4 linked regions of the Homo sapiens genome follow. The protein of the gene in region 1 interacts with the protein of each later gene in a pairwise test. Each region holds a gene or a part of one and is shown in the gene's direction. Other genes may lie near its edges.

What was found. The genes of interacting proteins can lie anywhere in the genome.
Region 2: the proteins of RFC5 (region 1) and XIAP interact in binary tests that used the Homo sapiens proteins (3 or more experiments, as listed by UniProt).
Region 3: the proteins of RFC5 (region 1) and TRIM38 interact in binary tests that used the Homo sapiens proteins (3 or more experiments, as listed by UniProt).
Region 4: the proteins of RFC5 (region 1) and ZNF19 interact in binary tests that used the Homo sapiens proteins (3 or more experiments, as listed by UniProt).

What each region holds. Positions count from the first base shown.
Region 1 is NC_000012.12:118,023,090-118,026,719, forward strand, and holds part of RFC5 (replication factor C subunit 5), read left to right. Parts: intron 1-1,761; coding exon 1,762-1,921; exon of another isoform or gene 1,922-1,925; intron 1,926-2,657; coding exon 2,658-2,739; intron 2,740-3,630. UniProt on the Homo sapiens protein: Subunit of the replication factor C (RFC) complex which acts during elongation of primed DNA templates by DNA polymerases delta and epsilon, and is necessary for ATP-dependent loading of proliferating cell nuclear antigen (PCNA) onto primed DNA.
Region 2 is NC_000023.11:123,901,440-123,905,069, forward strand, and holds part of XIAP (E3 ubiquitin-protein ligase XIAP), read left to right. Parts: intron 1-3,630.
Region 3 is NC_000006.12:25,976,189-25,979,818, forward strand, and holds part of TRIM38 (E3 ubiquitin-protein ligase TRIM38), read left to right. Parts: exon of another isoform or gene 1-1,907; intron 1,908-3,630. UniProt on the Homo sapiens protein: E3 ubiquitin-protein and E3 SUMO-protein ligase that acts as a regulator of innate immunity. Acts as a negative regulator of type I interferon IFN-beta production by catalyzing 'Lys-48'-linked polyubiquitination of AZI2/NAP1, leading to its degradation.
Region 4 is NC_000016.10:71,476,187-71,479,437, reverse strand, and holds part of ZNF19 (zinc finger protein 19), read left to right. Parts: intron 1-432; coding exon 433-559; intron 560-1,096; coding exon 1,097-1,210; intron 1,211-3,165; coding exon 3,166-3,251. UniProt on the Homo sapiens protein: May be involved in transcriptional regulation.

The sequences.
Region 1 (3,630 bases):
AGTACCCTCTCCTTTCTACTAATGGTACCCTTTGAACCACAATGGCTAGGAAAAGCATATCTGAAGTTGAGGTGCTCAGAGAGCTGATATTACTTCACTGCTTGCCAAGTGAATGATTTGGCAGCGGGAGGGACAGCACCCTGCGATTTGTCTGTCTTCAGGGGCCTAGCGCAGTTCTTTTCTCTTAAAGGACACTTGTCATCTCTCATTAAGATTCCAAGTGAATCAGCTTTGAGAGAAGAACGATCTTTAGGAGTTTGTGGCGAGGGAGTAGATGGCAGCACATGTTAAGAGAAGGATGGGGGAAGGGGGAGGAGGAGGAGGGGGGAGGAGGGGAGGAAGAGGAGGGGGTGAGGAGGAGGAGGGGGAGGAGAAGGCGGAGGAGGAGGGTAGGGGGAGGTGGAGGAGGAGAGGTGGGGGAGGAGGAGGAGGAGGAGGACAGCGAGAATATCTTCTGGTCCTAGAAGCTTGGCAGCCTTTCTTCGGCATCTTGTTCTGCCGAGTGACTGTCATTCTGGGCAGATCCCCATGTGAGAACATTGGGTACCTACAGAATGGAACCGGTGTCATAAGCAACTCTTTGTTCGGGTTATTGCTCCCTTGAGTGCTCTAAGGCCTCCAGACAGTCTCCATGGAAAAGTCTGCAAAAAGCCGCCCTCCCTGCCCATAGAAGGTGAAGTGTCATCAACCTGCCAAATATAATTTTATGTAAAAGGACAAGAAGTCTCATAGTCTTAATGGGATTACATGGCAAAAGTGCCAGAATCATGGCAAATGGTAAAAAGGAAGCATTTTGTAAAATCCCACGGAGGCATGTTTACCAGTTTGTGAAAGAGGGGTGGCTAGGCAGGGCGCAGTGGCTCACACCTGTAATCCCAGTACTTTGGGAGGCTGAGGCAGGCATATCACCTGAGGTCAGGAGTTCGAGACCAGCCTGGCTAACCGATGAAACCCCATCTCTACTAAAAATACAAAAATTGGCCTGGCACAGTGGCTCATGCCTGTAATCCCAAAGGCCAAGGCGGGCGAATCATGAGGTCAGGAGATCGAGACCATCCTGGCTAACATGGTGAAACCCCGTCTCTACTAAAAATATAAAAAATTAGCCGGGCGTGGTGGCACGTGTCTGTAGTCCCAGCTACTCAGGAGGCTGAGGCAGGAGAATCGCTTTAATCCGGGAGGCAGAGGTTGCAGGGAGCCAAGATCGTGCCATTGCACTCCAGCCTGGGCAACAGAGCGAGACTCTGTTTCAAAAAAGAAAAAAGAGGAGTGGCTAATCTCTGATCTGAACAGGCCAGCACTGCCCTGTCTTGTCATAGGCTGCAGCCTCACTTGTTTACATTCTTTCTTTTTTGAGACAGAGTCTCACTCTGTTGCCCACGCTGGAGTGCAGTGGAATGATTTTGGGTCACTGCAACCTCCACCTCCCGGATTCAAGCAATTCTCCTGCCTCAGCCTCCCAAGTAGCTGGGATTACAGGCATGTGCCACCACACCTGGCTAAATTTTGTATTTTCAGTAGAGGTTTTGCCATGTTGGCCAAACCTCCTGACCTCAAGTGATCCTCCCGCCTCAGCCTCCCAAAGTGCTGGGATTACAGACGTGAGCCACTAAGCCACTACGCCCGGCCAACATCCTCACTTGTTTGCAGTATTGAATCTTTTCCTATACCCTTGTGACCACAGAAAAATTCAAGTTTTCTGGGCTCTCTGAAAAATCAGAATGGACTTTGACATGAGGTGGTTTTATTTTCTCTTACTAGTAATTGAGAAATTCACAGAAAATACCAGATTCTGCCTCATCTGTAACTATCTGTCAAAGATCATCCCTGCCTTGCAGTCCCGCTGCACGAGGTTTCGGTTCGGTCCCCTGACTCCTGAACTCATGGTTCCCCGCCTGGAACATGTCGTGGAAGAAGAGAAGTGAGTATTTTGCGGGCCTTTGGGGATGGAGTGTAGTAGAAACAGGCTTGTGGGATCACTGGCTGGTTCGTATGTAGAGGAGAGGAATGTTGGAAAACGACTTTGCAGAGTGCCTAGCACAGGGGAGGCACTGGGGACCGTCCACTGCTATCATTTTCTCTGCTGTCTCAAGGCCATTCCTCATAAAAGTCATTTGGTACTTCATTTTTCTTGATTCCATCCTCCTCCCCTGGAAGCTGTCCCAATTTCCTCCTACTCTTCTTTGTCATTGGAAACTGCAGGCTGCTGAGTCCCTTCTGCAAAGATGCTTCCAGCCTTTTTAGACTAGAAGGGAAGGTTCTAAGACATCACATTCTGTGTAGTCAGATGCCAAGCAAGTAGCCGACCTGAGCAGCTGCTTGTTGTGAAGGAGGAGTTTCGGCTGTGTGATCATGGCTTGTGCCAGGCCTCTGTCCTCCCCAGAGAGCAGAATTCAAGACGACTGGCTCCATGGGAGAATGCTTGTTCCTAAATTCAGGCTGTTCTCGATTTTGGTTGGCTGTGACTACTAATGTGAAGCCCAGGTCCCTAAAAACCAGAGTGAATTCTAGATCATATAGATCAGGAGATTATTAACTCTGTTCCTCTCCTTCCTTCATCCCTTTAAAGCCTTAATCATTCCAGGCCATCTTGTTCCTTTGGTGAATGCTGGTGCTCTCAGGGGGCCTCATAAATCCCTTTTGCTTATTTCTTTCAGAGTTGATATAAGTGAAGATGGAATGAAAGCACTAGTCACTCTTTCCAGTGGAGACATGCGTAGGGCTCTGAACATTTTGCAGGTATGGTCTCAAGCAAATCCTTTTTTTTTTTTTTTTTTGAGACAGAGTCTTGCTCTGTCGCTCAGGCTGGAGTGCAGCAACACAATCTCAGCTCACTGCAACCTCCGCCTCCTGGGTTCAAGCGAATCTCCTGCCTCCTGAGCAGCTGGGATTACAGGTGCCCGCCACCACGCCCTACTAATTTTTGTATTTTTAGTAGAGATGGGGTTTCGCCATGTTGGTTAGGCTGGTCTCGAACTCCTGACCTCAAATGATCCATCTGCCTCAGCTTCCTAAAGTGCTGGGATTACAGGCATGAGCCACCATGCCCAGCCTGGTCCCAGCAAATCCTGAGTCATTGTTTTGTAATAGTTTTTGAAGAAAGACCTAAGCAAAGGCATGATCAATCTGTAAATTTTGAAATCTACAGCTGGTAAGACCTTGGTCTCATAACCTGCAGGATTCCCCCTCCTCACTTTGTATTTTGATTAATTGAAAAAATCACTTGTTGCAGGCCAGGTATGGTGGCTCACGCCTGTAATCCCAGCACTTAGGGATGCCGAGGGAGGTGGATTGCCTGAGCCCACGAGCTGGAGACCAGCCTGGGCAACATAGTGAGACTCTGTCTCCACTAAAAAATCATGAGCCAGGTGTGGCGGTGCACACCTGTAGTCCCATCTACTCAGGAGGCTGAGGCAGGAGGGTGACTTGAGCCTAGGAGGTCGAGGCTACAGTGAGCCATGATCATGCCACTGCACTTCAGCCTGAGCAACAGAGCAAGACCCTGTCTCAAAAAACAAAGAGAGAGCAAAAGAAAATGTTTTAAAAACAAAAGGAATCATTTGTTGCAAAGAAGGCAAAGGGAGGGAAGGATTTGGCACTGGAATAGCCAACAGGCTGTGGCATCCTCTG
Region 2 (3,630 bases), on another chromosome or scaffold:
CATCGAAGGTTAAAGAAGAAGTTTCAAACTGAGTACACTTTTGGGTACTTTACCTGTAATAGTTCTCTAAGCTCTTGACCATCCTCCCTCCAAAAAGATGAGAATTCTCCTACTGCTAAAAAAACTTAAACGTTTACTTATTTTTGACGCATTTAAGATCCTTTTGATCTTTAAGATATTTCAAGTGCTTTTGAAACACTATTCAGATAATCGTATAAGTTATGAAACAGTATGAACATTAATGATATTTAAAATTATATTCATTGATGTAAGAATCAATGGAAAGCTTCCAATTTTTTCCTTATAGATGCATTTATTTAAAACTTACACAAGCTCCACTTATCTTGGTGGTGGTAAAATAAACCCTTTAATTGTCATCTTTCTTTCTTTTTTTAATTTTTTATTTGTTTTAAGACGGAGTCTCACTCTGTCGCCCAGGCTGGAGTGCAATGGCACGATCTTGGCTCACTGCAACCTCCGCCTCCCCAGCTCAAGCGATTCTCCTGCCTCACCCTCCCGAGTAGCTGGAATTACAGGCATGTGCCACCACGCCCGGCTAATTTTTTGTATTTTCAGTAGAGACAGGGTTTCGCCAAGTTGGCCGGGCTGGAATTTTTCTACTATAACAGAAACACAAGCAATTGTGTCATTTTTTTCCTGCATCTTAAACACGCGCTTAATTGTTTGGCCATAAATTGTTAGTTTTCAAACCTTAATGTATCTGCAGCAGAAGGGTTTAGCAGGTTGTAATAGGAAGAGATCAAGAGACTGTGCATTAGGGAGAGTGTCTTTTCTCTATCTAACAGGAGTCAATGGGCGCTCATATTATCACTGAGACTACAAACTAGGATGGTGTGGGAAGGAGAGCCTAAGGGTTGGAATTCATTTGAACTCTCCTCAGTCTCACTAAATTGAGAGGCAAGTAATTGATACAGGCTCTCTACTCATGCTGGGACTGCTGCCTATTTGTCTTCCCAAAAGCTGATGAGGAAAGACTGGCACTAAGAATCTTTTAATTTTATATAAAATAAGGATGGGGCTAACTGAAGTGAAGCAGGTGAGGGTTATTAGAGAAAATATAACATTGTCACTTACTGAGAAATCCTAGATTTAGTGCTAAACTTTTTTGCCAATGGCTGTGTAACAGAGAATGCCCTAGTAAAAGGTCTTGTAAAAATAGTACCGAATCAGTATCTTTTTTTCTTTCTTTGAAAAAATTATGTAGTGTAAGATAAAGCCCTTTATTTAGTATATGTACTAAAGTACTTATTTTAATCTTTATGTGTATATATATTACTGTATATAATATAAAAATCAAATAACCCATATTCATTTCTTATCTGTCTTTCCATATGAATCTGCTCTAATAGTAAAATGAATAACATCAGTTTATTCTAGAAGAGGTTTTAAATAATTACAAATATTAGCAAATAACATCAAAAGTTATCTAGCCTTTATTGCTCATGTGCCAGTAACCTTCTGACCTAGAAGAGGGCTTTGTGGGGAGGAGAAGGGGAAAGGCGCTGTAGAGAAGTATGTAGAATCCAGTAGTTACCTTTAAGCCAAGAGGGAAGTAATTGCCAGTGGTAAACTACTGGTCTGAGGGGAAAAGATCTATGCCCAGAATATCACCATCTCAAGTTAGTGGCTTTATACAAGGATGAAATAATATAGAAAAAAATGAGATGATATGGTATCACAAACAATCAGAACCAAAGGAACCTTAAAGATTATTTTATAATTTTTTTTTTTTTTTTTTTTTTTTGGAGACGGAGTTTCACTTTTGTTGCCCAGGCTGGAATGCAATGGTGCAATCTTGGCTCACTGCAACCTCCACCTCCCGGGTTCAAGCAATTCTCCTGCCTCAGCCTCCTGAGTAGCTGGGATTATAGGCATGTGCCACCACACCCTGTTAATTTTGTATTTTTAGTAGAGACGGGGTTTCTCCATGTTGGTCAGGCCGGTCTCCAACTTCCAACCTCAGGTGATCTGCCCGCCTCGGCCTCATAAAGTGCTGGGATTACAGGCATGAACCACTGCACCCAGCCCATTTTATAACTTTTATGACCTTAATTGGGAACCTGAAGTACAGATGGGCTGTTGCCTAGGATCACGCCGATAGTTGGGAATAGAATTCAGATTTCCTGACTTCTGGTCCAGTGTTTTGGGGTTTGTTTCAGTTTTTTTTTTTGTTTTGTTTTTTGTTTTTTTTAGATTTTAAAAAATTGTGATAAAATACACATACAGTTTACCATCTTAACCATTTTTAGTGTATGGTTCCGTAGTGTTAAGTACATTTACATTGTTGCACAGTCAACCTCCAGAACTCTTCATCTTGCAAAACCGAAACTCTACATCCATTAAACAGCCAGGCGTGGTGGCACACGCCTGTAGTTCCAGCTGCTTGGGAGGCTGAGGCAGGAGGATTGCTTGAGACCAGGAGCTCAAGGCTGCAATGAGCTGTGATTGCACCACTGCTCTCCAGCCTGGGATACAGAGCAAGACCCTATCTTTAAAAAATAATAATAATAATAAAAACATGTTCATTAAACAACTCCCCATTCCCTCTCTTCCCAACCCCTGGCAACTACCATTTTACTTTTTGTCTCTATAAATTTGACTACTCTAGGTGTCAGTATTGTTGTTGCTTTGTTTGTTTGTTTGTTTCTTCCTTTTTGTGGAGAACGGGGTCTCACTATATTGCTCAGGCAGGTCTCGAACTCCTGGGCTCAAGCTATCCTCCCGCCTCTGCCTCCCTGAGAGCTGGGATTATAGGCGTGAGCCACCGCGCCCAGCCTGTTTGTTTGTTTTTAACTCGTTGTAGCATTACATCTAAAAGTAATGTGGAAATTACTTGTTCTCCTTTTGATTTTTTTGGCATGAAATACACACTTCATTCTGACTTTTTTTGGTGTTGATGCTTTCTTATAATATAAATCAGCTTATAGTGCCGTTTCTTTACTTGTATTTTTTCCTCTGCCTTGAGTACGTTTTCTCTATCTGTATACCTAGTCCCATTCCCCACTCTACCCCCAACTCCCTGAATCTACTTTGTGAACTCATGTTTCAAGGTTCAGCTCAGAAGTCACTTCTTTCAAGTTTTCTCCCGCACCCACAGCAGAGTTAGGAGCTCCTTCTTATCTACTCCTGGTGCTGGTAGAGTTTTGTTTTGTTTTATTTTGTTTTGTTTTGTTTTTCTTGAGACAGGGTCTCGCTCTGTCGCCCAGGCTGGAGTGCAGTGGCACACAATCTCAGCTCACTGCAACCTCTATCTCTCAGGTTCAAGCGATTCTGCTGCCTCAGCCTCCCGAGTAGCTGGGATTACAGGCATGCGCCACCACACCCAGCTAATTTTTTTTGTGTGTATTTTTAGTAGAGATGGGGTTTCACCATGTTGGCCAGGCTAGTCTTGAACTCCTGACCTCAAATGATCTGCCCGCCTCAGCCTCCCAAAGTGCTGGGATTACAGGCGTGAGCCACCAGGCCTGGCTGAGCATTTTGCTTTTTACACTATTTTGGGACTGGTTTCTGCCCTGCCCATTAGACCAAGCTTCTTAAGGGTAAGTGCTTTATCTTCTTATCTCTGATGCATTCCATGTTTGAGCCTATAGTTTTTATTATGCCCAAGAG
Region 3 (3,630 bases), on another chromosome or scaffold:
GAAGGTAGTCATAGAAAGAGTCTAGAGTCTAGAAACCACTCTCTCACCATTTTGCAATGTGGCAGAAAATGCAAAGTTGTTATTTACTTATCTCTTTTAGACAGGGTCTCACTCTGTCACCCAGGCTGGAGTGCAATGGCCCCATCATGGCTCCCTGCAGCCTTAAATTCCTGGGCTTAAGCAATCCTCCCACGTCAGCTTCCCCAGTAGCTGGGACCACAGGCAAGCACTGCCACGTCTGGCTAATTTTTTAAAAATTTTTTGTAGAAACACTATCTCTTTATTTTGTTCAGGCTGGTCTTGAACTCCTGGGCTCAAGCAGTCCTCTCGCCTCGGCCTTCTAAAGTGTTGGGATTACAGGCATGAACCACCATCTCCGGCCTGAAGTTTATTTAATCCATTGCCTTGTGGACTGGGCATTGAAGTTGTGTGTAGTTGGGTTTTTTTGTTGTTGTTGCTGTTGCAGACAATACTACTGTGAACATTCTTATCCATGCTTCCTTGTGTCCCGTAAATGTTCCCTCCAGGGAGATACCTTGGAGTGACATGCTGGTGTGAGGGATGCATATCATAATTTTACCAGATACTACAGATCTTGAAATTGTTCCAATTCTACCCCACAAGCAATATAAGAGCTCTCACTCCTCCAAAACTCCCTGAGTCTTTACTTATATAATTTATGATTTTGACAGTCTTACAGATTTAAAATGGTACCTAATTGTGTACTTAATTTGTGCTTTTCTGATTTCACTAGTGAGATTGAGATTCTTTTTGTATGTCCATTAGCCCTTCAGGCCTCTGTGATTTACCCATGATTTACTGTGGTTTAATAATTTTTATTGGGTTCTTTTCCTTATTGATTTATGGGAACTTATTATAGCTGATATCTTCTGGCATGTGGATGGCATTTTGCATTTTCATCCTGTTTTTTGATAAATAGGGTTTCAAAATTAAGTAGACACATTTTCCTTCAAGGTCTGTGTCTTTTATGTCCAAAGAGCTTAGTCATCAGTGGGCAGTGAATTTTATCACCTAATTAATTTTATTAGCCCCGTGTGCTATGCCTGTAGTTCCAGCTACTGGGGAGACTAGGGCAGGAGGATCTCCTGAGCCCAGGAGTTCGAGGCTGCAGTAAGCTATGATCACGCCACTGTACCCAGCCTGGGCAACAGAGCTAGACCCTGTCTATTAAAGGAGGAGGCCGGGTACAGTGGCTTACGCCTGTAATCCCAGCACATTGGGAGGCCGAGGCAGGAGGATCACTTGAGGGCAGGAGTTTGAGACCAGCCTGGCCAGCATTGTGAAACCCTATCTCTACTAAAAATACAAAAATTAGCCAGGTGTGGTGGTGTGCACTTGCAGTCCTAGCTACTCTGGAGGCTTAGGCAGAATTGCTTGAACCCAGAAGGCAGAGGTTGCAGTGAGCTGAGATTGTGCCACTGCACTCCAGCTTGAGCGACAGAGTAAGACTCCATCTCAAAAAAAAAAAGAAGAGAGATGAAGGAGGAGGAGGAAGAGAAAGAGGTGGGGGAGGGGAAGGAAGAGAAAGAAGAAGAAAGGGACAAAAAAATTTAGCTGTCATCTTTGCTCTGATAGCATTATAATGATGATGAAGACAATTGCTAGGTTGGTGAGAGAAGGCTATATACACACCAGAACTCTCCACGTATATGGCAAGTTCATATATTTTGTTAAGTATGTCTCATTGGAGACCTTCTTTTCCCGTAACTATGACCAGTGCTCTGCCAGCTCAGTCAACAACAACATTGCATGTTGGCTCCATACCTGGACTCTTGGTCCAATTGGTAATGAAACCATCCCACCAGTGTCTTCATAATATATATATACACACACACATATATATATAGTATTCTCTCCCAGTGTCTTCATAATATATATATATACACATACACACATATATTATATTCTCTCTATACATATTTATTTATATATCTATATCTATATCCTTCCACCTCAGGTCTCCCTCTGTCTCCCAGGCTGAGTGGTGCAGTAGTGCGATTATGGCTCAACCAATGAGAGGATCAATGGCAATCCTCTCATTTCAGCCTCCCCAGTAGCTGGGACTACAGGCATGGGCCACCACATCTGGCTGATGTTTAAATTTTTTTGAGACAGCATCTCTATATGCTATAGATATATATAGTATCCTCTCTCTAATATGGATAGAGGATACTATGTCTATATCTGTATCTATCTATCTATGGAGAAGGAATACTATATATCTAATAAGATGTAATCTATATTATATATAAAAGTGAAGCATTGATTGGTACATATAATATATATATTGATTACTGTGTGTATATATTTGTTTTTTCGAGACAGGCTCTCACTCTGTTGCCCAAGCCGAGTGGTACAGTGGTGCGATCATGGCTCCACCACCTGAGCTAAAGTGATCTTCTCACCTCAGCCTCCCCAGTTGCTGGGACTACAGGAACAGGCCACCATACCTGGCTAATTTTTTAATTTTTTTTTGAGACAGGGTCTCCCTTTGCCACCCAGGCTGGAGTGCACTGGCGCAATCTCGACTCACTGCAATCTCCACCTCCCAGGCTCAAGTGATCCTCTCACCTCAGCTTCCCGAGTAGCTGGGACTATTGGTGTGCACCACAATGCCTGGATAATTTTTCATATTTTTTGTAGAGATGGAATTTGGCCATATTGACCAGGCTGGTCTCAAACTCTTGGACTCAAGTGATTGACCCGCCTCAGCCTCCCAACGTGCTGGGATTACAGGCATGAGTCACTGTGCCTGGCCTGATTATTGTACACATTTTTGATGTAATGTATTATATATGTCATATATGACAATCTAGATGAATATATTAAAGATTGGGTTTTCATTTATATATTGTAAAATACATACACTATACATATATAATATGTAGAACATATGCTATACATATTATATATGTATATGTTAACATATATAATACATACACATATAATATGTATAGTTGCAAATATAAAATTTGGTTTGTTATTTATATTATTTTGTGCAGGAGTTCTATATCTATGTCTATAAGCGGGAGCCATAATTTTCTATTCTTTGTAGGATTTGGTATGAGATTGGCATTACTCATGCCTTGACTTCTAAATTTCCTATAAAACTGACAAGTTCCATTTTTGCTTGATAAAGATGCACGTTTTATTATCTGTCGGTAAAATTTAAAGTAGTGATTTCATTTCTTTAATGTTAGGTCTGCCCATGCTTTATTTGTTTTTTGAGTGAGTTTTACTCAGAAATATTTTTTCTAGGAAGTAATAATTTTATCAGTACTTTCAATTTTATTAGTAGCATAAGATTTATTATAAAGTTCTGTAATATTTAAAAAGTTTCTGTATTCATTCCATTTGTGCCTTCTGTCTTACTTTGATAAATCTCATTGGAGGTATGTCTATTTTATTAAATTTCTTTTAAAAGAAGCTACCTTTTTTTTTGTTTGTTTTTCCTCTTTATTGCATTCTTGTTTTCTTTAACTTCACTGTTATATTGTTTAATATCTATTTTTTCTTTTTAAAAAATTATATTTGGCTTTCTATGTTCTTTTTAAAATTTAAATTAGATGCTTGGCTCATTAATGTTCAGCTTTTTAATTTTTCTAAGAT
Region 4 (3,251 bases), on another chromosome or scaffold:
AACAGATAGATTGGCTGAGAATAGGGAGTACCTAATAGGAATAGGTGGGTCCTGAGATACCATTTGAAGCAAATTGTCCACCTGTAGGTACAAAAGTAAAAGACTGAAAATATTTACTAAATCAAAGAGATTTTTGCCCTAGGAAGGTTAACTAATAAGAGACTTTTTTTCCTAGGGTTTAAAAAATGTTAAATCACATTTTATGACAGTCAATTTTATATCCTAATGGAATCTCTTCTGGTAGTGAGAGAAGTTCCAGATTTTTCGTTGTAAAAATAGTCATATAATGGTCTAATATCCAGTTCTGTCACATTTTCTCATTACCTATCCCTCACAGGACTTTCCCTCAAGTCCCTACCTGTCCCCTCTGCCCCACACTCTGGCCCGGAGCCAGAGGATTGGCTCTGGGGCAGCAGGAACCTGTTGTTTTAGGAGATGGTGACCTTCGAGGATGTGGCTGTGCACTTCACCAAGACAGAATGGACTGGCCTTTCTCCTGCCCAGAGGGCCCTGTACAGAAGTGTGATGTTGGAGAATTTTGGGAACCTGACTGCTTTGGGTAAGGCCATTTTCCTCCTAGGACTCAGATCTGTACTTTTCCAGTTTCCTTCCTTCTTTTACAGCCTGGGGGGAGGAGTGTGGAGTGGAGAGGAGAGGTTGTCTCTTGTGTCCTCCACTGAGTGACTGCAGAGCTGAGGCTCAGTGACCAACTTCAAAGATTGCTGGGTAGGGAGAGGTCTTGGGTCACTTTGGTCTCCCAATGAAGGGAATTACTGTCCCCTGGTAAGAGTATGTTCCATCTTCCAAGAGGCTCTGCACAGTAAGGAATAAGTAGTAGTTGTTGTCTGGGGAAGGGCATGTCCCCTTCCCTGTGTTTGCTCATGCCTTGTGGATCTCACTGACTTACTTATCCTTGAGTGTTTTTTTTAGGAAGAAGTCACAAATGCTCAGTTTCCTGTTGATCGGAATCTCTTTGGCCTTCTCCAGTCGAGAACCCTCTTCTGTGGGTCTTATTCTTACTGAGACTCCTGGGGTTTTCCTTCTTTTGACACAGCAGATACAGGGCTGAAAAGTACCATTTTCTTCCTGTTTTCAGGGTACCCAGTTCCCAAACCTGCACTGATCTCACTTTTGGAGAGAGGGGACATGGCTTGGGGCCTGGAAGCACAGGATGATCCCCCAGCAGAGAGGACCAAAAACGTCTGTAAAGGTAGGTGAGGCAGATTTAGAACCAACAATTGTAGCGTTTTATGGAGCACTGTATTTTAAAATGAATCATGCTGGGCAGGATTTAAATAAAATAGATGATTTCACCTAATAGGTAAAATATGAAACGTTTCTCACCAATCTTAACTCTTACCAACATGTAATCACTCAGTACGTCTCATCTGCAATCCTTGAATCCATTGTTCCTTTCTGAGTTTCAACATTGCCTACCTTAGTTGTCCTCCTTGGTTGGGATGGATTTATTCAGGAGCAGTTTTTGAGCAACTTGCCATGTGCTGAACGTTGTTTAAGAAGTTCTGGCAGGTACAAGTTATGGAGACAGATGTAAAAAGCGAAAAAGAAAAGTATTAAGTGCTGTTGGGAGTGGGACGGAGAATGTGAAGGTAAAATGGGCCAGATCTTCCCAAAAGTTGGCCATAAATGGGGAGAGCTGAGTCAGATAACACTAGGAAGTCATGGCATGGGAGGAGCTTTTTGAATTCATAGGAATTCAGAGCTGAGCACAGGGCGTGAGGTGCCTTTAGAATAGGCAAGTGGATGGCTAGAGCAGGCCATTGAGAAGGTGGGTGGAGAGTCTGAGATAAAAGGCAGGTCTGAAACAGTACTCTAACACAGCTGGGTTGAAACGATCCCCAGGAAGAAAAAATGAAGGCTGAATCTTAACCATTAAGGGATATTTAATTTCAGTGAGAGAAGGAAGAGAAAGTAGACAGTCAAATAGATGGGGGCCACCAAGAGCAAACAGTGAAATTGAAGGCAGAGGCAGGAGTTTCAGTGCAGGTGGTTTGCAGAGAGCAAATACGTGGAAAATAATGAAGCTAGCACAGCACTTCAGCCTCTTATTCTAAGAATCTGAAAAAGAATCATCAAGACAATTGAGAACCTGTTGGTTTGTTCTCACACGCTTCCTCTGTCTGGTGATTATTCTTTTTCAGACTCTTGGTTACCTTGTTTACTTCAATCTCAGATTACTCTCCTCTGAACATTCTCCTTCGGAGTTCCCTTACTCCTTTAACTCACACTCATAGGATGAACTTGATTAACCATCACATGAGTCCCAGGTAACCCACATTAATGTTAAAACCAAGCCCATCATTTCATATAAAATGGATTGACTTTAACTCATTTAAAATGTCATCCAATCTTTTGGAACACAAATGCCATTTTATGGGCTGTTTGTCTCCTTTTTGCTGATAGGAGAAAGAATACTCTCAGTCTGGGTGTGTCTAAGTAAACTGTTCATCCCTTTTCAAATAGAGAGTCTAGGACAGTAGTTTCTCTGCATGTTTGAGGTTCAGCAGTTTTAGGGCGTTTCCTCATCGTCTATAGTCCATGTGTGGTTCTGCAGTTAAGAACCTCTGAACTAGGTAATCTTACAACATATTGGGAATAATACTCTCTAAGCACTTCTGTGATTTTCTTTCTCTCTGTCTTGCCACAACCCAGTGTCTGTAATGTTCAGTGTCTTAAGTCTTTTGGGACATCTGCAGGGTATGAGTTTTTAAAAAGAACAACAATTCATCCTTTGCCTTTGCTTTCTGATACTGTTCTGTTTCACTTTCTGATTCTAAGTCTTGCCAGCCCCGATGTCACTACTTGTTCTTAAGACCTGTGCCTTCTTTGGCATTTTGTAGGCTGTAAGTAGCATCAATTCAAAAGATACTAGCTCATGCCAGGGATGACCAGACATCATTCAAATATTAGAGTAGAAAAGCTTAGGAAGCAGTCTCGTGTGTTGTGTCCACTGATACCCTGTTCCACCTCAATGTTCTCTGCCTGTGTGATATTTGGCACTTTCACTTTAACAGCCTTTTCTTCCCAGCATGCTGATGTGAAAGTTGAAATGATCTCTTTTAAAGCCTTATCATTTTCAATGCTCTATTATTTCTAGTATAGTTCTCAGGTGGCATTATTTGTGTTTTCTATCTCTTATGTCAGATGTTGAGACCAACATTGACAGTGAGTCCACATTAATCCAGGGAATTTCTGAAGAAAGAGATGGGATGATGTCACATGGTCAGCTG